Linked DNA regions of Homo sapiens: regions 1 and 2 are each linked to region 3. The links come from fine-mapping of genetic effects on gene expression. A gene starts in region 3. Each other region holds a variant in brackets. All regions are shown on one strand. Distances are between the middles of the regions. Region 1 overlaps SGPL1 (sphingosine-1-phosphate lyase 1). Region 2 has its middle 19 kb from the start of PCBD1. Region 3 holds the start of SGPL1 (sphingosine-1-phosphate lyase 1).

What was found. PIP is the estimated chance that this variant, and not a neighbour inherited with it, causes the effect.
Region 1: its variant is the best candidate, but not a certain one, in a credible set for the expression of SGPL1 in whole blood (TOPMed, PIP 0.54).
Region 2: its variant is the best candidate, but not a certain one, in a credible set for the expression of SGPL1 in whole blood (INTERVAL, PIP 0.76).

Annotation. Positions count from the first base shown.
Region 1 is chr10:70,847,630-70,855,811 of GRCh38, reverse strand. It overlaps SGPL1 (sphingosine-1-phosphate lyase 1), which reads right to left. Exons shown (of 15, transcript NM_003901.4): 4 at 4,602-4,669; 5 at 957-1,104. Among named protein-coding and RNA genes, the nearest start is that of SGPL1, 36 kb to the right of the region's middle. The variant A/G (reference allele first, on the strand shown) is at 3,439.
Region 2 is chr10:70,903,120-70,911,301 of GRCh38, reverse strand. No RefSeq gene overlaps it. Among named protein-coding and RNA genes, the nearest start is that of PCBD1, 19 kb to the right of the region's middle. RefSeq lists an enhancer at 7,140-7,688. The variant C/T (reference allele first, on the strand shown) is at 4,534.
Region 3 is chr10:70,812,455-70,820,636 of GRCh38, reverse strand. SGPL1 (sphingosine-1-phosphate lyase 1) reads right to left here and starts at 4,689. Exons shown (of 15, transcript NM_003901.4): 1 at 4,511-4,689; 2 at 3,757-3,826. The coding sequence starts at 3,783. RefSeq lists silencers at 4,274-4,383, 4,464-4,553, 4,574-4,893.

The DNA.
Region 1 (8,182 bases), 35 kb before region 3:
AGAGGATGTTAACATCAGGAGAAGCTGGGTATAGGGAAATCTCTATCATCTTTGCTACTTTTCTGTAAATATATCAAACTAAAAAGCTTCTTTTTAAAAAGTACTTGTAATATGATCTTAATCAGTAACAAACATAAATCTGTTTGAGTTAATAATAGCAATAATGTTTAACATTTACTGAATCCTTACTATATGCCAGGCACTATAAAACATTTATACATGTATGATCTCATTTAATCCCCATAATCATCTTTTCAGGTAAGTACTGTACTACTATTACTATCCCCATTGTAGAGATACAGGAACTGTGACATACAGAAGTAACTCGCCAAAGGCATACTTTAAGTGGCAAACCAAGGTATGAATCCAGGCTGGTTCCAGGGTTACGCTCTTAAGCACCAAGCTATTTGGTCTATTTATCCATCCCATATGTGCTCATGCATACATGTGTATACACACAGACAAACACTATTAGCATTCTCAGAAACAGACAGATATACATATATAGATAGATGTAAACTATATAGACAGCTCTACCTATAGCTACATGCATAAAGATAGACACCATCTGTTTATCTTTGATAGTGGAATTATAGTGACTTATTTTCTTTTGTGCCTTTATGCAGATTTCACATTTTTACATGGATCTGTATTTCATTTGTATTACATATCTTATATTCTCTCTTCTTAAACACAAATATATTTGTTTTATTCATGCTTACAAAAGGAAATAAAAGCCAAGTTCCACTGTCTCTGAGATTTGCTTGCTTTATGGATGAAGGATGAATCTAAACATAATTTTAAAAATAGGAAATTCAACCTGTGAAACAGAGAGTAGGCCCTCCTAAACATGTATTAACCAATGATGAGTTATTCTTAACCTATGTGAACATTAAACAATGACAAAACCTGTCTCTTTAAGGAAGTAGAGAGCATGTATATGCCAAGCATCATACCCATAGAGCTGTACTCCTTAAGTTTCTCCAAAACAGCAGATGAGCTCAGACCCTGGGAGGGTAAAGCTTTCACATACTCTTTGTCCACTTTCAGGAATGACATGTTCTTGCTAATATCATCCTTGGTCTTGTTCAACTTGTCTTGAATCTCCAAAGGTAAGAAAGACAAAGTTATCCAGATGCAAGAGTACAGTAGAGACAGCAGAATTATTATGACAGTCAAGCAACTGCTCAATGCTAGGCACCGCACAAGTAACTAAACTAACATTTTTCCTAAAGATATATGGTGATATTCTGACTGATCAGCTACTTTCTGGCATGTACAATAGCCTCTTAAAAATTTGAAAAGCGAAGCTTCTCTCTAAAGGTCAAGATGCACTCAGCCGGTCGCGGTGGCTTACACCTATTATCACAGCTCTTCAGGAAGCCGAGGTGGGCAGATCATTACAGGTCAGGAGTTCGAGACCAGCCTGGCCAACATGGTGAAACCCCATCTCTACTAAAAATACAAAAATTAGCCAGGCATGGTAGCAGGCATTTGTAATCCCAGCTACTTGGGAGGCTGAGGCATGAGAATCACTTGAACCCAGGAGGTGGAGGTTGCAGTGAGCCAAGATCACACCACTGTACTCCATTCAGCCTGGGCAACAGAGCAAGACTCTGTCTCAAAAAAAAAAAAAAAAAAGTTGCACCCAATTTCCCCATAACCCTTTTCTCTGCCACATTGACATCACTGCTGCTTCACTTGGTTGGCATTGCTAAAGTCAGCACATCCTTGAGGGCAGTATTTGGACTTTGATCCTGCCTTGGCAGCAGCTACAGTGTGTGTGTAAAAGAATCAAAGGTATAACTAGGAACAGTGGCCAGAAAACTGGCCATGCTGCAGTAAAAGTGATTCTGGTCCTTGTGCAAGTGATGAGCTCCTTCAACAGACATACACGCAGCACACTAGGAATTTGGAGGTCCCATTCAACACTAGCACAAGGCATTCTAAGAACTGCCAGGAAGACTCTAATGTATCTCCTTAAGCTGCTGTCGACAGCTTGCACTGTCTGACCCCAAAATATTAAAAGGAACTAAGGTCCTTTCTGCTAGGTAGTTTATCAACTATGGTTCCCTTCTTTTCCATCCTCAAAGCCACAGCTTCTGAGCTGTTTTCTTTTATTCACTTACATATTCACATTCATATTCACTGCATATTCACAAATATGCAGGCCAGGGACACATAGTGAACAAAACAAACTTAGGCAATGGAGCACACAGGAAAAAAAACCTCCTGTCCTCATGAAGTTTATTTTCAGCAGGAGAGACAGAAAATAGTAAGACAGGTAACAAAAAGTGCTGAGGGAAAAAAAATAGCAGAGTAAGGAGGCAGAAGGGCAGGGGCTGCTGCTTATAGCAAAAGGCTCTTGGGTAGTAGGTTTGGGGAGAGAAGCTACATGTCACGATTTGTCACAGTGCTATTGTTTCAGCAATATATTTGTTAAAGAACGCCAGAACTCACTCCACACTAAGATTTTCTCATCTCTAGCCAAGGATAATTAGAATACAAGAAGATCTTCTTAGATATGGCCCTCAGTGAAACCACAGGGAAAGCCACTCCTTTCGAGCATGTCTGCAATAGTCTAAGAGGCCCACACTGGCAGGGAGCAGAGGCTACACTCCTGGGCAATGCCTGGGCATGCTATGGATGTGAAGACATTTTTTAAGTTGTAAATTAAAAAATTAATTCACATAAATGGCGACTCATGCAACAGAACAGGCTATGAAAGCTGAGCTTCCATACATAGAGTATGCTATTGCCATAAAACAGACAAAAAGTGACAGAGAGGTATATTAGAAAGCACAAGTACTTCCTTACCCCCAATTCTTGCCTCAAAGCCTGTATTACGTTACCCAATTTTAATTTCTTCAAAGCATTTATTTCAAAATAAAATTCCACATATTTGTTTACTTCTTTATTTTCTGTCTTTCCTATTAAAATGTAAGTTCCATGAGAGGAAGGATTTGGTCTTGTTCACCACCATATCCCCAGCACCCAGAAAAGTACTTGACACTGAGCAGGTGGCTCAATAAGCATGTGTTAAGTGAATAAATGACAGAGGTATACACACACGCGTGCGCGCGCACACACACACACACACACACATACACACATGTAATTTTTTGTATCTAAGCCTCAGAATCTGTTTCTGAAAAATGGAGAGTGATTGGATAGTCCTTGGCAAGCTAAGGATCTTCCAATTCTGTTACTTTCTAAGTTTAAGAGTGGGTTCTGGAACCCTAGCATTTATTTGTCTCAAAGTCTGAAAACTGAACGAAAAGAAGAAAAAAAAATTCAGGAGATAAGGGGAAATCCTAATCTCCTTTGTGCTACAGTCCATCTTCTACAATACCTTCCCTGTCCCCACCCCTTATACTCTGTAAGGACTAGATTTACTTTTAGGGATTAATATAATTTGGAGAGCAAACAGAAGCCTAT[A/G]TGCTCACATTTCCCTTCACCACCTGTTATTGCTCCCACTCTCCTACAGGAAATGAACCTGAAGATACCTATCTCTGGGAGAGTTAGCACAGCGATCTGAATGGATTTCAGCCAAAGGTTAAAGATAACTGGCCAACTTTAGGTCAGGGGTTGGCAAACAAACCCTGGTATAGCCAGGAAAGGGAACTGAAAGCCAAAAGTAGAAGAAAACTTAAAGGCAGGTAAAGTTGGGAAAGACCAAAGGGGGGTCAGGGGAGGGCACTGGAGGAGATGAAGATTCCAAGGACTCATATGCCTTCCTTAGAGCTTGCCAAGTGGCCTGCCCTGTTTATCTTCATCTGGGATAACCTGTGGGAGACGCACAGAGGTGACTACCTTATCCTCAACATGGATGAGGGCCAAGAGGACATAACAAAGGGGACATACTACAATACAGAAAATTGCAAACAGCAAGAGACAGCGCTGTGCAACTTGGGATCAGCAAACTACAGCCAGGAACCAACAAAGGCCTACCTGAATTCGTAAAGAAAGTTTCACTGGAATATAGCCAGGCTCATTCCTGAACCTCTTGCTGCTGTCCCTCTGCAAGGGCAGAGGTGAGGAGTTGCAACAGAAATGATATGGCCTACAGAGCCCAAAATGTTTCATATCTAGCCCTTTATAGAAAACATTTGCCGACCCCTGACCTAAACCATGTAAGCACCCAACTCCTAGATAAATACCTAAAGTCAGCCAGCTGCATGTTGTTCCAAAGCACCTAACAATACAGTCAGGTTTTCTCAAATTCTTACTTCCTTAACAGGCTTCTCATCTCTCCTTTGGCCAGTTACATTGGAGAAAGGGTTAAGTCAGGGTTCTCAACCTTGGCCATTTTGACATTTCCAGCCAGATAATTCTGTGTTTGGTGGGTGGGGGGGGGCTGCCCTGTACACTGTAGGATGTTTAGTGTTTAGCAGCATTTCTGGACACGATCCATTACATGCCAAGAGCACCCCTCCATCCAAGCTGTGACCACCAAAAATGTCTCCAAATGCTGCCAAGTGTCCCCTGGAGGTAAGAGACAAAATCACCCCTCCACTTTGAGAATATTAGGTTTAGTAAATAGAAAGAAAGAGGTATGATTATCAAGAGGGGAAAAAATGACATACACAGATTCTACTTACCTTACGACCAATAATGGGCATCTTCCTGGTGAGCTTAAAACATTTCTTTTTAAACCTTGACCATAAACCTAAAAGAAACAAATGGTTCTCTTATTCAAATAAATTTCCATGGATATGACCTGGCATATAGCAACCATTCAATGTGTCTTCCACCTCACTTGCCTTCCAATTGCAAAGAGTTTCTTTCGTTTAAAAAATTTTAAAAAAACTTTTAAATTTAAGTTTGTGAATAAGTACTATATTTACATGGTTCAAAATTTTAAAAATACAAACACATAACACACACAGTAAAGCAGTGAAGCTTCCCTCTCTCAAACGTATCCCCCCAACCCTCATGCTACCCCCCTGAGTTTCCTTATGCATACACGTGCAACAGTAAAGCTATATTCTTATTTGTCTCCCTTTTTTTGCACAAAAAGTAGCACACTCTAGCACTGTAGTAGACCTTGTTTTTCCACTTAGGAGTATTATCTTAAAGATCAGTGCATCCTCATTCATTTTTATAGCTGCAGAGTATTCCATTTTATGGATGTGCCAAAATTTATTTAACCTGCCCCTTAATGATGGATATATAGGTTGCTTCTAATATTTGCTATTACAAATCATGCTGAAATAACCTTGTAACACACACCATACTGCACACCTACAGGATAAACTACAAGTACACCTACAGGATAAACTCCCAGAAGCAGAACTACTAGGTCAAATGATATACGTGTTCCAGAATTCTTGACCTTCCTAAGGTTTCTAGATGTTCAACATTTCTCTTCCTTCCCCCAAGACTAATGGGCAGCCTGTTTTTAGTTTTGTTTTTCTTGGATCTATGTCCAGCCTCTCATCCAACACAGATTCTAACATTTTCTGGACCTACAAATGCCCTCAAAATTGTGGATGCTGGCCAGGCACAGTGGCTCACACCTCTAATCCCAGCACTGTGGGAGGCCGAGGTGGGAGGACTGCTTGAGCACAGGAGGGTGAGACCAGCCTGGGCAACACAGTGAGACCCTGTCTCAACAAAAAGAAAAAAAAGTTTGAAAAATCACAGATGCCAGAGTCCACTCTGTCAGGCAGTACATAGAACAAATAGGGAATACAAATCCTGTCGATCATAATAATCATAAATACATGGCATCTAAATAGACTAATAGACCTTCTGATGCATTCACAATCAATGTATCTCGACTGACTCTGACAACAGCATTCTGAGGCTGGCACAGAAGGCATTATATACCATCTACGAGTGACATAAAAGGCAATGCAAGATCAAAGCATCAAAACTTGCTCAAGGCCACAGATAAAATCAGTGATAGAGCAAAGATTTAACTGAAGTCTTTGTATTTTCAGTCCAGGATTCCCAGGATTCTATACTGCTTCAAATGCACCACAGGAATTTTCTGTTTGAGTCTATAAGAATCTAAGCCTGGCTTTTATCCAAGGTGTGAACTGAATATGAACTTCTACTGCATTCCTAGGAGATCTGGAAATTCCCACTTTCCTGGCCAGAAGGAGCTCCCTCTTCACTCAACAACCACGGGATGTGTCTGCACCCCCTTTTTGTATCTATCACATCATGCCTTGCATCTCTGCTAGCTGTTTTTGCTTCAGCTGCATCCCTCTCTTTCTAACTCTCCCTAGAGTCCACATTCTGTAAACACCTGGGACAAAACCAGGTAACTAAGACACAGACTGAATAAGAAGACAAAGAGACTGAAACCACTTGTTTGTGGTTACTTTTTGTTTAAATTTTGGAGTATTTCCTTCTAGCCCTATGTTCTACACACTGTAATACATACCTGAGATTCTGTATAATGTAAAATAACTGTATCCTCCTCACTGATAGCACTTTCTACATTATTAACAATTCTTTCTAAACATATTTTTAATGTTATAATAGTTCATCAAATGACTATAATCTAATATTGGATATTTTAGCTTCTTGTTATTCAACTATTTCTAACTGTTAAAGCTGTACAGATTCAGAAATGCTTCCTTATTTGATGAAGTAATTAATGAGGTAAAAAGAAGTCTAAAAATCAGCAAACTGGACCAGCTGTCCAGAAGTATAGTAATGTGACTAGGTGGAGGATAAAAGAATAAACTAATTTTGTGGAAGTTGTGAGAAAAAATGGTACAGGGTAAAAAGAACGGAATACAGCATCAGAGATGAAGAAACTAAAAATAAAAAGATCCCATGGCCCTGACCTAAAAAGATTATCTCAAAAGTCCCCAGAAGGTACAGAATGAAAAGTAATTAGAATTTTTTAGTGGGATTGAGAGTAAGGGGAAGAAGGAAGACTGGGAGATGGTCAAAAGGATAGAAAATTCCAGTTAGACGGAAGCAATAAGTTCAAGAGATCATGGTGACATAGTAAATAAAAATGTGTTGCATACGTCAAGATTGCTAAGAAAGTAGATTTTAAGTGTTCTCACCATTAAAAAAGGTACATGAGGCCAGGTGTGGTGGTTCACGCCTGTTATCCCAGCACTTTGGGAGGCCAAGGCAGGCGGATCAGGAGATCAGAGTTCAAGACCAGCCTGACCAACATGGTGAAACCCTGTCTCTACTAAAAATACAAAAATTAGCTGGGCGTGATGGCACGCGCCTGTAATCCCAGCTACTCGGGAGGCTGAAGCAAGTGAATCGCTTGAACCCAGGAGGCGGAGGTTGCAGTGAGCCGAGATCGTGCCACTGCACTCCAGCCTGGGTGACAGAGCAAAACTCCATCTCAAAAAAAAAAAAAAAAAAAAAAAAAAAAGTACGTGAGGTAATCACGTTAGTTTGATTGAGCCATTCCACAACTTACACATTTGAAAACTTCATGTTGTACATCATAAACATACAATTTTTATTTGTTACTTTAAAAAAAGAATTTTAAGTTTAACAAAATAGAAAATGCCAGTGTAAGAACAATGCATGGTTCTTAACAGTTTACAAATTCCACTCATGCAAAAGATGCCATTCAGTCCTCATATTACCCATGACTAGGTAAAGCAGCTATTATGATGTCCATTTTATTGCAAGGAAATGGGCTAAGAGAGCTTAAGGGTGTCACCCAAGGTGACACAACAAGAAACTGAGAGTTTATCATTTCCTCCATGACATAAAGCTGATTTCTGTTGATGAATTATGGACAACCCACAGTTAAAATCAGCATTAAAGTAAAAGTAATAAACTGTGAGCTGATAATCACAGAGGCAGAATTAAGGAAGAGGCTGCTAACCCCAGCACAGTTCATGCCGCTGCCCACTTCTCCTCTACCCCAGGCTCCATCCTTTGTTCCAGAAATACTCTCTTCCCTCAAGAGGGATTCAGTGTTGGAAGATCAGCAAAATTCATCACTAGTCCAGACTTCAGACTCCTTTAGTGCAGTGTAACTAAAAATAACTTGATTGTTCAGCAACACATGGCAAGTGAGCAAGTGCTAAAAAAAATGAATATTCTATCAAAATTATCCCTGATCTCTGGAGGGAAGACATTCTTATCTGTGTCTAAAATTCAAGTTGGAAATTACCAAATGAAAGTGTGCTGTGTGTGTATGTGCTAAATTGTATAAAATTGTCAACATTTGACGATTTTTTTT
Region 2 (8,182 bases), 91 kb before region 3:
GCCAGCACCGCTCTAGGGATGCCTCAGCCAGGTGAGGCAGAGACCCAGGCAAAGACTCCCCCCGGAGGAGTCCCACATCTGCAAATGACCTCGCTGGCTCAGCCTCCAGCAGGGGCAGTCCGGGGAGAGGAAGTGTTGGGAGTGAGTACCACAGCGGCGCCTGCAGGTGCGGCAGCTGGGATGGTCAGTCACGTCCCTTGGGGTAGCTTCTCCTGAAGGGAGGCCTGAGAGGTGTCCTTCTGCGGCAGCCACTCTGACCTCTTGGGGCCAGAGTCCTTCCAGGTTGAACAGGTCTACCCCACATGCTGTGGGAGCACACCCAGGAATGTGAGCCTCCTCCAACACACTTAGCCCCGCTGAGGCAGCCCTGGCACAGCTCAGCAGCCTCATCTCCTCTCCAGGGACAGGCCCCAAGGCAGTGTTGCTGAAGGGCTGGGTGGCCTGGCCTTGAAGAGGACATGGGGTTCCCGGACCTGCCCCTAGCCTCAGGCACACCATCCTGCAGACCCCAGAAGGAGCCCCGAGACTCACCGCAGTGGACCGCAAGCAGTAGCCCACTCAGGGTCTCTGGTCAGCCCAGATCTCCCCAGCCTCAGCCTCCTGCGCCACATCTGCTGATGGCTCCCTCCTTAGGGAGTGGCACTGTCTGGATGTTGGGTCCCTCTAAATCTCACTGGAAATTTGATTCCCAGTGTGGGAAGTGGGGTCTGGTGGGAAGTGCTTGGATCATGGAGGCAGACCCCTCATGAATGGCTTAGTGCCATCCCCTTGGTGATGAGCGAGCTCTTGCTCAGTGAGTTCACCTGAGCCTGGTTGTTTAAGAGTCTGGGACCTCCCCTCTCTCTCGCTCCTGCTCTCACCCTATGATGCGCCTACTCCCCCTTTGCCTGCCATCATGACTGGAAGCTTCCTGAGGCCTCACCAGGAGCAGATGCCTGCACCATGCATCCTGTACAGCCTGCAGAACCGTGAGCCAATTAAACCTCTTTTCTTTATAAATTATCTAGTCTCAGGCATTTCTTTATAGAAAACAAAACGGCCTAACACAGGTAACACCCACCTGAGGTGAGGGGTAGCAGCAGGAGCACAGAGTCCCCCTGTCCCCACCCAGCTCTGGATGTTCTCCGCCCATAAGTCATCAAAGAGGGAGTGGGGGTGGAGGGATTGAGACTGTCTGGAGGTGGGTGGACAGAGGTGTTTAGCTGAACAACGGCCGCAGACATTCAGCTGTTCCTGACATAGCCCTCACCCATCAGCAAGAACATCTGCTGAGGTGGCTGGAGCCATCCCAGAATGGAAGGGATGGAAGGAGGCGAGAACCTGTGACTGAGGCCTTCAGTGTACACTGGGGGCATGTTGTCCTGGAAGCCAGCGGCCAACTCCACGTGTGCTCAGGACCCTTGGGTGGTTCCCAAGCTGCCGTCCATGCCTCATTTCACTTAACAACATTTGTTAAGTGCCTGGCCTGAGCCAGGGACTGATTGGAGCTCAGGGGATGTGACGGTGAAAGCCCAGATGTGGCCTCGGCCCTGCAGCAGATGCATTCTCAGCAAGGCCCACCTGCCTGTGCCATGGGCTCTCATGGAGGGTACCCAGCAGGGTGGGCCTGGCTGAGAAGCGATGGGGTAGTGGAGGGGGATGGGAGCCTAGAGGCTGGGACTGTGATCTCAGAAAGACATGGGGGTGCCCTGAGGTAGGTCATTTGAGAGAAACAGGCTAGTCTGAGAGGAGCTTTGGAGGCAGAGTTGGCAGGATGTGATGACCAAATGTTCAGGATGATGGGGTGACATGAGGACAATTCCCAAGTCTCCGGCTTCAGCAACGAGGAACCCTGGCTGTGCACTTAGTGACACTAAGCTACTTAACCCTGCTGTGTCTCAGGCTCCTCACCTCTAAGTCAGTAATACTACCTATTGCACAGGTTGGTTTTGAGGGTTAAATGTGTACGTGTAATGTGGGTGTAATGTGGGTTAAATGTGTATGTGTAAAGGGTTAAATGTGTATGTGTAAATTGATTAGAACAGTATCTAGCACCATGAAAGCCCTCAATAAACATAGGTTATTATTATCATCATTGTTGTCATGAGGAGAAGGAGGTGAAATGAATGGGTAAGTGAGTGTGTGGATGGATGGATGGATGGATGGATGGATGGATGGATGGAACATTACACTATGGTGGATGTAACGATGGAAGGAAGGAAGGAAGGAAGAAGGAAGGAAGGAAGAAGGAAGGAAGGAAGGAAGATGGATGGAAAGATGGGTGGAATGAAGGAAGCATTCATCGCCAATTAGAAAACCTTAGAAGACAAAGGACAGAGAATGAGTTTTGTTTGGGACATGTTGCATTTTGAGTGCCCCCACAAGGCATCCCATCAAAAGTGTCTAGGGGCAGCTGATAGCACAGGCCTGAAGTCCAGGAGCACGTTCTGGGCTGGGAACTTAGGACTATGACCAGCCATAGGACAGGGGAAGCCATAGAGTGGGGCAGGGCGGCGGGGCAGACGGTGGACTGGGAAGAGGGCAGACGGCATCCCAGCAGAACAGCCAGGACTCTTTCAGTGTCAAATAACAAACTCCAAATGGCTGAAGGGAAAAAAACCTCAGCTCATGGAACCGAAACATCAAAATCAGGGAACGCTGGGTCCAAGTGCTCAGTTGAGAGCTTGGGAGTCTCTCCTTCTCCTTCCGTCACTCAGCTCCGCTCTCCTCCCTGTTAGCCTCTTCCTCAGGCAGTCTCTCCCTGCAGTGGCCAAGACACCCAGGCAGCTCCAAGCTGACGTCTCACCACATAAGCAAGAGGAAAGACCCCTTTTCCTATCTGGCAGAAACCTAGGCTGGGCTCACCCTGGCCAGGCCTGGACACAGGACATCTCTGAAGCCAGGAGGTGGATCAGCCCCACCCAAACAATGGGGCGAGTGGGTGGGGAGGGAGTCCGAGGAAAATCTAGGTGTTGGCAGTCAAAGAAGGTGGAAGCATGCTGGGCAGGCACCCCCACAGCTGCCCACTTCACCAGCCAGCACCAGCGTTAATGGGGGAAGGGAGTGTCCCCCACAAACGCACGCCTGGCAGGGTGTGAACTCCAGGAAAAGGTCAGGTTTCCAGAAAAAGGGAGAGGTCACCTGTGTCAGCCACCACTAGCTGTCAGGAGGGATTGTGGCAAGAGCAAGTGCTCCGACCAACTGCTGCCACTGCTGCCACTGAAGAGAAGCCATGGGGACAGGGATGGGGCCTGCGAGGGTCCCCTGGGAGAGGCAGCAGAAACAGAAGCAGATGAGGGGCCTGGGCAGAAGAGTCCAGAGGCAGAGAGAGGAGGAGAGGAGCAGGCAAGGAGGCAGGCAGGACAGAAGGGCTGTGAGGAGCCTGGGGAGGTCAGATGGCGAGGAAGACCCCCAGAGGAGGACCCAGAAAGGACATGAGACCAGGGAGGAGGACAGAGGAAAAAAACACCAACCGACCTCCCTTCCTCCACCTCCCCCAAAGCCAAAAGTTAAAAATAGGCAGTGTGGCGAGCGGGAGACAGAATGAGGGCAGTTGTCTAAAGAGAGAAAAGGCAGCGGAGCCGGGGATGGGGGAAAGGCCCTGCAGGCCTCGGCGAGGATAAAAAATGACAGCGGCAAGGCACAGCCTCTCTCCCACCCAGACAGCCTCCCTGCCACCCATGGGTCGGCCTGCTGGGCTGAGGATCATCCCGCAGCTCAGCCTGGGCCCTGTGGAAGGGCTGCAGAATAATAACCCCACCCAAGGCCGCACATGGCTGGCTCCCTGCACCCAGGATCTGGGCACTCCCACCTGGCAGGGTGGGGACAGATGAGAAATAGAGGCTCAGAGAGTCCACGACATGCTACTGACTCCTGGGCACCGCCAAGAGGTTGTGGCCACAGAGACGACCCACCGTGGGATTCCCCAGGCTTGGGGTTAAAGTACAATGGGCACCTCCCTGTGCCGACACCAAGCTTCCAGCAGGACAGAGAAGAAAGGGGGAGTGGGCAAGTCAGAAGGTGATTTGAAGTCACACATCCCGTAATGCCTCCCCACCTTCCTGCACTGACAGCCCTGGTGGGGTAACTGAGGCCCAGAGAGGGAACGCTATCTGCCCAGGTGCTCAGGACAGCGAGCAGCAGAAGTGGGCACTGAGAACCAGGAGAACCTTTGGTTCCCAGCCGCACCCATCCTTACCTGGCTGGGTGTCCAGGCTAGACACCTCCTTCCTGGGGCTCCAGCTCTCATCATCCCCTGCCCTTCCTGCCTCCCTTCTGGGCACATCCACGGAAGAACTAATTCGTGGTTGGTTTGTAGAGGCAAAACCCCACATAAACATACACAGAGCGTTATGAGCTAAGAGGAAGCCCTGCTTGGAGCCGCCGTGTGCTGACATGGCTGCTCTCCATGCCCAGCTTCGGGGGGTCATTACTTTTGTCAGCAGACAGCATGATTATTGGATGGTGTTAATAATCTCTTATGTTTATAGATGGCCTTTCTTCTAAGGTTCTTAAAGCTCTTCCACATTTAACTTCCCCTTGTTGCCAGGAGGT[C/T]GATACCACAGCAGAGAGAAGCATTTATCTCCATGTTTTTATGAGGCCCAGAGAGGGTTGGCCATCTGCCCAGGGCTACACAGCAGATCAGCAACATAACTGGAATTAGTATTCTGGGGCCCAGGAAGGACCACCTTCTGGACATTCTCTCTGGCCATCTCAGGACAGGCCCACCCTTACACTTGTCCAGGGTTTTTATCCAGGTTTGACTCCATTTGATGAGGCAGGGCTGTTGGAATTATCACCACTGTGCAGGCTCAGAGAAGTGAAGTGACTTACCGAAGATCACACAGCAATGAGCAGATTGAGGACTCAAATCCAGGTCTCTGGACTCCCCATCCAGTGCTCTAACCAGGGCAGCAGCTACCCCCAACCACCCCAAAGCTGAGTTGGAGAGGCTCCAGAAGGAGCACTGAGGTGAGCCCAGTACCTAACAGGAGGAGGGAGACTTTGTCCTGTTACACCTGCCTGCAGGGAAATGGGGATGGGGCAGAGCCAAGGCCACTGTCCTCTGGGATCCCAGGCTGGGGCAGCCACGGTGGCCATCTCTCTCCCTTGGCCCACAGGTGGTTGGAAAGGAGGAGAGTAAGAAGAAACAGGATGGTCCCCATGGACAGGAAATCTCGGTGGGTTCATGGACACAGCAGACCCCTCCTCTCTCTGTGCTCCCACCCCTTCCACTGTCATGTGAGGATGGGGCTGGACACGGTGAGATCTAAAGTGCCCTCTGGCTCTGAGGTAGCTGAGATCTCCGAGAGTCAGGGTCTGCCAGCAGAGTCCAAACCACCAGAGCCCCTCTAGGCATCTTGGGCCAGGGAGCCCCGTCCAGCCCTCATTTGTCTCAGTGCTTACTGCGGAGTGAGGGGCCCAGGCGGGCAGGATGCAGGAAGAGGACAGCAGCAGACTCCAGCCCTGGCCCACCTCACCCCCAGCTGGCAGTGACCTTGGGCAAGTCCTTCACTCTCTGGCTGTCTGTCTCCTCCTCTAGAGAATAAGCGAATCTCCCTAGTGGGCCTTCTGGCCCCCGGGTGGCTATGATTCCCTGTGGCTCCCACAGGGGCAGCCCTTGCAGTTCGGGCTGGTTTGCGGTGTACAGGAATCTGATTCCGACATTGAGAAGCATTGATTGCTGGGCCTCTTCGGGGGCCACTGGGCCACAAAGAGAGACCAATTAGGCCGTGTCCATCTTCCTTCAAAGCCACAGGGGCCAGAGCTCCCACCCGGGGTGCCCAGGCCTTGGGAGGCTCAGGTGGGAAAGGCTGCTCCTCCCAGGCCCCAGTAAAGATGAACAGGCCTGCCGGGAGTGGAGGGGAGGTGGAAGGCGGGCAGGGCTGGAGACTAATGGAACTATTCAGGGGGCAGGAGCTGGAGAGGAAGACGTGCTTGATTCTCAAGAAAGATGAGGGAAGTGGCTGAGGCGGGGAGGGCGATCCCAAGGCTGCCTCTCGGAAACCTGCTCCCGGGCTCCACAGGGCTGCAGCCGAGGGTGGAGCTCCCCCACCTCAGCCCTCACGTCGAAGCAGGTGCCAAGTTCTGTGGGCACTGCCTCCGTACCAGCTCTGCACAGGTGTCTTCTCCCATTCTGTGGCCCCCAGGCTGCAGGAGGCCGTGCTTCGGAGCTGCGGGACCACCCAGCCTGTTTGAAGCCCAGTGCTGCAACTTTGCTCTGTTATTTCTGCTATGTCACTCTGAGCGATTTAGTCTCTCTGAGCCATAGTCTCTTTGTCTGTAAAAGGGGGAGATAATAGAATCGCCTTCGTGGGGCATTTGTGAGGATTAATTAAGACTGTGTGCAGAGTGTCTGGCACTTGGTAAGCTTTCCACACCTCCTCCCTCCACAGCTCAGGCTTAGCTAAGTCCACGTCCCCACTGCTTCTCCCCCAGACCCTCATCAAAGTTTCCTGCTGACGCCCTGCCTCACCCCTTCTCCCCCAGCTTCCTCCTCCACTCCCTGCCAGGGCAACCCTCCTGCAATGCCAATCTGAACCTGGCCATTCCTGGGCTTGAAATCTGTCAGTCCTGGTATGGCATGAAGTGAAAGAATGACATGCATAGGCTGGGCGCGGTGGCTCACGCCTGTAATCCCAGCACTTTGGGAGGCCGAGGCGGGAGGATCACGAGGTCAGGAGATCAAGACCATCCTGGCTAACGTGGTGAAACCCCGTCTGTACTAAAAATACAAAAAATTAGCCGGGGGTAGTAGCAGGTGCCTGTAGTCCCAGCTACTCGTGAGGCGTGAACCTGGGAGGTGGAGCTTGCAGTGAGCCGATATTGTGCCACTGCACTCCAGCCTGGGTGACAGAGAGAGACTCCATCTCAAAAAAAAAAAACAAGAAAAAACAATGGTGTGCACATTGTTCAGGTGTTATCATAGTAGTGCAAGCCTGTGTTTTTAAAGAGTCTCTCATTTTTAGAGATATACACTGAAATATTTAAATATAAAATGCTATGTGATTTGCTTCAGAATAATCTGAGGGTGGGAAGGAGTGGGCGGCCGAGACCAGCCTGGAAACTTCCTGGTGGAGCTGGCTGGTGCGTCTGTGGGGATCGTTATGCCAGTCTCCCTTCTTTGGTATGTTTAACAATTTCTATCTATAAAAGGTTTGTACAAATGTGGAGGGAGAATGGATGAGAAGCTGGTAGATCTCTGTTGGTGCCAGGTGCTGGGTACATGGGGGTCCATGAACTCTTCTCTGTACTTGGTGCCTATTTGATAGTTTTCATAAGAAATTTTTTTTTTGTTTTTTAAAAAGGAAATTCTGTCTGTTCTCCCTGCTGCACCAGAATGGAGTTCATGCATGTGGCTCCAGGGCCCCCCACGAGCCATGGCCAGTCACCCCAGCCCCTTGCACCCTGTGCTCTAGGATCCAGGACATAGCCAGCAACCAGACATGCCCGCGGTCACACCTCCATGCCGCTTGCTGTGCCCCCTCAGAGTGGCACACCTCACAACCCTGTCAGCCGAGAAGGCAACTTCTTCTCTTGCTTCAGCTTAAGAGTTGCCTCCTCTAGGGAGCTGGTCCTCATTTTCCTCCGGCCTCCCCCTAGGCAGAGCTGCCCACTGCCTCCTTGAAACCCCCACAATCCCTTCGGCCTGGGACACTGCGGACACAGGCTGCAAGGGGTGGGGCTCGTCTTAGTGCACCCAGGTCCCAGCACGGGGCCTGAAGCTCAGTACCTGTCCACTGAGGATTGAAAGGTCTCACCTAACTCAGGACTGAACCTTGACTGAGCCCCCCACAGAATGGGTCTCGTTTCCTGAGGTGGCCCTGCCCCCTTCTGGTGGACAGAAGTGTTGCAGGGAAGGCGGAAAGCAAGTTGGGCCAAGTCCAAGTCTACTTCCTTCATGGAGCAGAGCTGGGAACTGGGCTCCCCAGGGGAACCTACACAGAACCATGCAGAGCCTGTCGCCATGAGCCTCTCCAACCTCTTCAGTGCTCTCAGGTCTTCACTTAGAGGAGCACGCCACAACCTCGCAGACTGGCTGGCCTTTGCTCAGCCACCTTCTCTGCCCGGGTGCCCATCCGGGTCATCCCCCCCGCCCAATCTTGCCTCTGCCTGGCCAGCTCCTAATGAATCTTCAAGCTTACTCTAAGCACCCCCTCCAATGTGAGTGCTTCCCATGTGTAGAGTTGTTGTCACTCCACTG
Region 3 (8,182 bases):
TGCCCAGCTAATTTTTGTATTTTTAGTAGAGACAGAGTTTCGCCATGTTGACCAGGCTGGTCTAGAACACCTGGCCTCAAGTACTCTGCCCGCCTGAGCCTCCCAAAGTGCTGGAATTACAGGCATGAGCCACCACGCCTGACCCAATAAACAAGATTTAATAATAATTTAATAATAAAACATGTATTTTCAGACTACACTAGAAGAAAAAAGACTCCCTCCTCCCCCAGTCCCCCATTGCCAAAGTGCCCCCTAGAGGGTGGAGCTATCCTATCCCATCTGCTCCACACAGACCCTCTCCCATCAGTCACAATGGTCAGCAACCTCTACCCTTACCAGGGGTAAGGACACAAAGTAGGCAAGAGGGAGGGATCTGAAGTCAGACCAACTGAGGTCAAACTTGGCTCCACCACTCAACTGCTGTAGTTACTCTCTATAAGCCTCGTTTTTCATCTGTAAAAGAAGGATACCAAAAGGTTTTTGTGAAAATTAAATAAGTACAGTATTCCTACACTTAACATGTAATACATGCTCAATAAATGTTAGCTATCAGAGTTAACATTACTATTCCTGAATCCACCTTGTATTGTTTCCTAGCTTTTGCTCACTTATTCCATTAGCAGAAAAGACGGGAGACTGGATATCCATTTACCAGAGATACTCTTCAACAGATTCATGTATAATATAAGCTGCATCACAGGCCAGGTACAGTGGCTCATGCCTGTAATCCAGCACTTTGGGAGGCCAAGGCAGGCGGTTGGATCCCTTGAGCCCAGGAGTTAGATACCAGCCTGGGTAACATGGCAAACTACCATCTCTACAAAAAATAAATACAAAAATCAGCCGGGCATGGTGGCATGTGCCTGTCGTCCCAGCTACTCAGGAGGCTGAGGTGGAAGGATCATCTGAGCCTCAGAGATTGAGGATGCAGTAAGCTGAGATCATGCCACTGCACTCCAGCCTGGGCATCAGAGTGAGACCTTGTCTCAAAAAAAAAAAAAAAAAAAAAGCTGCATCCCATGACTTCTAAGACTATTTCTAATTCTGAGATGCTGCACTGCACTGAGGTTATTTTTTTATTCACTTAGGTCCTTTCTTCCCAGGTGGAGGGCCAAGAACATGTTTTACATATCATATAAAGTAGCTTGAGAAACACCTCATAGAATGATGGGTTAGTGTGCCACTGAAAACCCAGCCATGGTTATTGGTTCTTTACCAGTTAGTTCCAAATAGCATTATACATTACAGTCAAGGAATGAATGACAACTTTTCCAGTGAAAGCACTTCATGCAACATGTATGTTGTCTTCAGAAAGTGATGACTGCCTAGGGCCACTCGCATCTATGTGGATTAATTCCTTACAGCAACAAGCAAAGCAACACTCCTAAACATTCTAAATTAACAGGTGAGGAGGTGAAAGGTGGTGGCAACAGCTAGAGAAATACCTCAAAAGAAAACTGATTCCAAAGTTAATATTCCGAGTAAAAGCAGTCATTGTTCTGTTAAAGTAAATGCATAGGCCCTATAAGTAATAACCATATCTCTGTGCATGGGGAAATATCTTACATATAAGAACCTATAATTTACATAAACATATCCTTCTGTAAGAGGATAAACAGAAACTGTCAATTGCTACAAGTCACTCTGCATTAACCATCCAAGATGCTCACAGCGGTTATTTCTGGGTGATAAATTACTGCACGGGGTAGAGGCGAATGAAGGGGATGTAGGAGATAGGGGAGATTAACAAATCCCCTTTCCTTTTGCTTACTTATAGTTTCCAGTATTTCTAACATAATGGTCTTTGAATAAGAATTTTAAGTTATATAAGGGTATTAATTAAAACTGAAAAATCCATGAAATTTGGGGCAAGATACTATTTTAGATGAACTTTTCATTGGGATCTGCGGATAACCTAAGTATTCATCTATGTCTCTCACATACAACCTAAAATTATCCTAGATCCCTGCCTCAAATCACAATGGATCAAAACTTAGTTTCTCTCTTCTTTAGCCCCCCTGCAGACCTTACAGGTTATGCCACTACGATGTCAGCACCCAGTATAAGGAAATCTCACTACCAGTTTTTGCCAGTTTCCCAGTGACGCCAACCCACCCTCTGGGATAGTGAGATAAAGAGAGAGAAATGAATTGTTTTTAAAGCACTGATTTTGCACTCAGAGAAGTGACAAAAACAAACAAACAAACAAACTTGGCTGGACACGGCGGCTCACGCCTGTAAGTAATCCCAGCACTTTGGGAGACCAAGGCAGGTGGATCACCTGAGGTTAGGAGTTTGAGACCAGCCTGGCTAACACGGCGAAACCCCATCTCTATTAAAAAACAAAAATTACCCAGGCATGGTGGTGTGCACCTATAATCCCAGCTACCCGGGAGGCTGAGGCAGGAGAATCGCTTGAACCCGGGAGGCAAAGGTTGCAATGAGCTGAGATTGTGCCATTGCACTCCAGCCTGGGAGACAAGAGCTAAACTCCATCTCAAAAACAAACAAACAAAACAAAACAAAACGAAACAAAAAAAACTAAACCCGGACACTTTTTCTATACCACCATTTCAAAGCTATAAACTCTCCATAATTCTCACACTAAGAAGTCCATAAGGAATCATAAAAGTCCCAAAAATAAAATGTCATTTTGGTAAACATGCATTTAGCAACGCTATTCTTCCCTGCTCAGTAAAACAGCACAGAAAGATCTCAGGAGGAGAGGAAACAGCTCTAAAGCAGGCATACCTCTCTGTCCAACAAAAGAACTTAAATTCATACTGGTTCAATCCAACAAGCATTTGTTAAGCACATACTATATTCAGAGCACCATGCTAGGTGTTTATTCATCTCTAAACAAAGAAGACATGATTATCTGCCTGTCGAGGAACCATAACTCTAATCTGGAAGACAAACACTCAGATAAACTAGTATATGGCAGACCCTGATAAAACGTAATAATAGAGGTTTCAAAACTGCTCTGGTAGTACGGGAAGGGAGGGATTAAAACTGCAAGAATTATGAAAAAGAAAGCCAGGAGAGGTGACCTGTGCTCCTAGTCCTAGCTACTCCAGAGGCTGAAGCAAGAGGATCACTTGAAGTGGGAGTTCCAGGCTACAGTGAGCTATGATTATGCCTGTAAATAGCCACTGCACTCCGGTCTGAGGAACATAGCAAGACCTTGTCTCATTTAAAAAAAATAATAATAATTTTGAAAAAGATTCTTCAATAATTTAAGTTCTACATATACTGTATTGATGTATTTAATTCAGCTATTTATTCATCCTGATCATTCATCCAAAATAAAAGGTGGTTGGCCAGGCGCGGTGGCTCACGCCTGGAATCCCAGCACTTCGGGAGGCCAAGGCGGGTGGATCACCACAGGTCAGGAGTTCAAGGCCAGCCTGGCCAACATGGAGAACCCCGTCTCTACTAAAAATACAAAAATTAGCCGGGCGTGGTGGCGTGCGCCTGTAATCCCAGCTACTCAGGAGGCTGAGGCAGGAGAATCGCTTGAACCCAGGAGGCAGAGGTGGCGGTGAGCCGAGATCATGCCACTGCACCCCAGTCTGGGCAACAGAGTGAGACTCCGTCTCCAAAAAAACAAAACAAAACAAAACAAAATAAAAGGTGGCAAAACGCTCAGCTACCAAAAGCAAGCATCAGAGGTGAAATCTACACACTGGGATCCTTTGGACTAAAAAAACGGAGACAAATGCCTTGGAACCAGGAGGATGTCTGCAAAAGGCTCACCAACATCAGAAGGTCTGTGCTAGGCATCTTCCTCTTCCAGCCTCCTCTCCGCGCTCCCCTTTTTCAGACTCTGTAAAAGGGAACCAGGTTTGTTTACTTCTAGAGCTTTAAACTGTCTCGCCAGCCCGCCTAGATTCGCCAGAGCAGCCAAGTTATGGTTCTCTCCCTCCTTTGAAGGCTCAGATTTCATTCCCAGATATCACAGTCCACCCCTAGCACCCCAGACCAGCGAATCAAAATCCTGCTGCAACTAGGTTTCCCTCCCACAGCTGATGAAACTAATCCAGACCCAGACTCCCACAAAGCATTCCACCCAGGTGGAAACTAGGGGAAACGCCCCGTCTGCGCGCGATCGGGGTGGGGAGCCCAGCCCAGGCCACCTAACCCGGGCTGAAGGTGCCGAGGCTACCAGGGTCCTGCCTCCTCCGCACTCCCTTCAGAATCAGCACGGCCTCGCTCTCGTTGTCACCCCTCCCGTCGGAGGACCAGCAAATCCTGGCCGCCCATGCCTACCCCGCGGCAGGCGTGGGCTCCAGACCCGCCCCACCGCGGCCCCGCGCCCGCCCGCCGTCCACTTGCTTGGACCTCAGCGGCTGGTGCCCACGCCTTCAGCCCGCCCCCGCCCCCGCCCCGGCCGCAGCCGCCCCGCCGCCTCTGCCCGCCCTCGGCCCACCCGGCCCCTGTCCTCTCCTCACCCCGCGGCGCCTCCGTCCCGACCCTCACCGCCCCCCGGAGCCCGCGGCGGCCCCTCCACCTCCTCACGCCGGAACCAGCTTCCAGTCTCCTTCCCTCGAGCACCCGGCCGGCTCCACCTCCTGCGTCTCCCTCAGCACGCGACGGACTCGCAGGCCGCGAGACCCAGGCTCCCCTGTTGCCGCCGCCGCCGCCGAGATTGGAGGCCCGGCAGCCGCCGGCCTCGCCCCTCCCGGAAATGGCTCCGGGGGCACCGGCCCGGCTCCCGGACCCTGGCGTGCGCGGCCCCGCTGCTACCAGCCGCGCGCACGCCCAGACCCGGGCCCCACGGCCTGTGCGCGCCGCCTACCGGCCAGGCAGCGGGCTGCACCCAGACCCTCCAGTGAATGTCTCAACCAGGCCGTCCTGGGGCGGCTGTGGTATCCCGACGGTCACCAACTTCTCTTCCAAACTGCCTTGGACAAAAAACTTTCTTGTCACATTTGGTCACTTGGAGCCTCCTGAGAGAGTAGGTCTGCAGGGCATTGTACAAACTAATCCAAAACAGCCACAGAGTTGGGTCTCTTTCCTGGGCCAGGGACTTCATTTTTCCATCGAGGTCAGTGGTGCCTGAAGAAAAGCAACAAGGAAACTTATTTAATGGAAATATCATCCTCATCCTCCCCTCCACCACTGCCCCCCCCCACCCCAAAAATAAAATGGAGAGCAGAGGCTACTCTGCCATCACTACTTTCATGAGCAGTGCTGGGAATCACCTTATACACAAGTGCAAGGGCCCACTGGGATCACAAAGGTCGCCTTCATTTCCAGATGAAAAAACTAAGTCTCAGCTGGGTGTAGTGGCTTACATCGGTAATCCCGGCACTTGGGGATGCTGAGGCGGGAGGGTTGTCTGAGCCCAGGAGCTCTAGATCAGCCTGAGCAACATAGTGAGACCCCCAACTCCAAAAAGAAAAAGAAAAAACTAAGTCTCACATAGGTTTCCCATGACTTGTCCAGGTTGTCATAACATTGCTTTAGTGGTAGCAGAAGGCAGTGCAGTTACATGGAACCAACTGGTCAGTGACCTGCATTCAAGATTTTTTTTCAATAGATTTTAAAATGACACCTAGATAGACTCTTGAAATCTCTCAAACAAAAATGACACTAATGAGGGTACCCAATTCCATCCCCTTGGAAAATGTTGCCATGACACTAAAATTAGGGCATCATCACTACCGTCATTATCCACATGTAGTGCTTTCAGGATGAAATGTACTATCACAGCTGCCCTCCTCTGCATACCCCATCGGCACTTCCCACTTCCCCAGCCATAATGGTTAAGGCCCTGAAAGACTATGAACAGGTTATCTTTAGGCCTCCTCACCCCCATTCCGTCAGAACTCCCAGACATTTCTACCATCCAGAGCCCCTGACTCAGGCATGAACACCCCCATACCCTTAGCCCCCTCACTACTATTCCCCAGCAGACATGCATTCTCAGTGTTTGAGGGTCAGAAAATGTTCTGGGGCCTCCTGCCAATGCCTACTCATCAAGAGTTGCTTTAGGGTTTCAGGTATGCCTTCCCATTCTCCATCTCCTACCCTTCTGCTTTAATTCTTCATCAGATCCCCCAGGAACTGCACACCTCCTCTCCATCTCCTTGTTAGTTACCACCCCCACATCCTTTAATCTAGAATCTGTGCACCCAGATGACTAGAGGGCAGGGTCACGTCTGATTCCTCCCTACACCCTAACACACAGTATGCAGTCTGCTCATTCTTCCCAGATGCTCAAACCAATGCAATCATATCGACTGATCCTTGCTTTGCCAAGAACTATGCTAGGCACCTTTACATACAAGCCTTATTTATGGCCTGACTTGCCCAGATCAGGTGACTCTTATCATCCCTCAACCTGTAAACAAGGACACCAAGACCAAAGAAGGAAATGATCCTCCCAAAGACACACAGGCAGGATGGGGTGGAGTTTGTGTGGGAGTTTGGAGGGGAAGCCAAGGGTTCAGAATTTGTAGCGGGGACCTCGAATATCCTTTTTGGTTAATTAGAATCAAAAAATGGTAGGGCTAGAGGGGTCTCCAGCTATTCGCCAGCTCCACCCCAGAGAATACACAAATACACGTGAAGAAACTGAGGTCCAGAGAGAGATGCGACTCCTAGCAGTTCCTGGCAGAGCCCAGCCTAGAACATGGGTCTGGGTTTGCAACTCTCTGAGCCGATGAAGCCCTGTGTGTGTGTGTGTGTGTGTGTGTGTGTGTGTGTGTGTGTGTGTGAGAGAGAGAGAGAGAGAGAAAGAGAGAGAGAAAGACTTCAGACCACCCTGCTCTCCTACCCCACACTCCCTCTGACAGCAGAATGACGTTAGCAGGCACATAGCTGGCTGGTCAGAGGCAGAGGAGGGCTATCTGGAACTTCCATTCTGAAAGTGTGGTTTCCCTGAGAGCAGCATTGGCTTTACCTGAGAGCTTGTTATAAATACAGGTTCTTGGGGCCCCACTCCAGACCTCCTGAATCAGAATCTACAGCTTAACAAGGTCCCCAGATGATCTTAATGCACAAGAAAGTAAAAAGCACTTCCCTAGACACTCTGTTTGCAGAGAAAGCACAATTTTTGTTTGCTTATTTAGAAACATGGTCTCAATAATGTTGCCCAGGCTGGAGTGTAGTGGCTATTTACAGCCATTATCATAGCTCACTACAGCCTCAAACTCCTGGGCTCGAGCGATCCTCCTGTCTCAGCCTCCTGAGTAGCTGTGTCTACAGACACATGGCACTTTGCCCGGATAGAAGGCACGATAGTTGTATTAAGCGTGTGGGTTGTTTGGGATGGCTTAAGGAGGCTGATGAAGAACGTGTTTGTTTGGGGCTGGGGAGGGAACCAATGCTCCCCAGTTGTCCTTTGGTACCATCATGGTGCCTTCCAGGATGACAAAAGATTGTCATTCAGGTGTCAGTGAGGCACTGAAATTCCCGCAGATGACGGAAGGCTTGGGACGGGGGAGGGAGGTGTGGAGCAAGATGGTCTGGGATTTTTTCCCTCTGTGGCTTCTTTAATTTAGGCTAGGAGGATCTCCCTGCAGTGCTTGTGCCTGCCATCATTTAAACAATTCATGCCAGCAAATCTGGTTCTGCTTAAAATGGCAGCCATCCATGGCCAAGTTAATGACAGCCTCCCACTCATGCATGAGTGCACACTCCCACTCTAAAAAGCAGGCGCACACACTCTCCTGCCTCCATTCTTGCTCCTGACACCCCTTGCTCAGCCGGGGACCTTCTTGAGAAGCTCACCTCAGGACAGGGGTGTGGGCAGATCTTAGGAGGGTTGCAGCCTCTAGGCCCATCCTGGAAAGGAATGGCCCACAGGAAACCAACAAACAGTTCCTAGAGCCCAGAATGCCCAAGAAGAGGCAGGAAACCAGCACATAGCTCCAGCAGCAGGCTCAGCTGATCACAGCAGAGCTGGCCACCAGGGGAGGAGAGGCCAAGGGCCAGACAGACATGGGAGCCCCCACAGCAGGGACCAAATGCCCCGACATTGCCAACTGGAGTGAGCAAGGGGCAGCAAGTCACCGAGTTATCATGGGCCCCCTGACCTCACTCAGGTACATACCCCAGTTGCCAGTTTGATCAAAGTCAGAGTGGCCAAGCCCTCAGAGAGCCAAGAGTTATTTCCCAAGGAAACCTCATCTTTCGTAAAGAAGCCCACTGATAGGGTTTGACTCTGTGTCCCCAC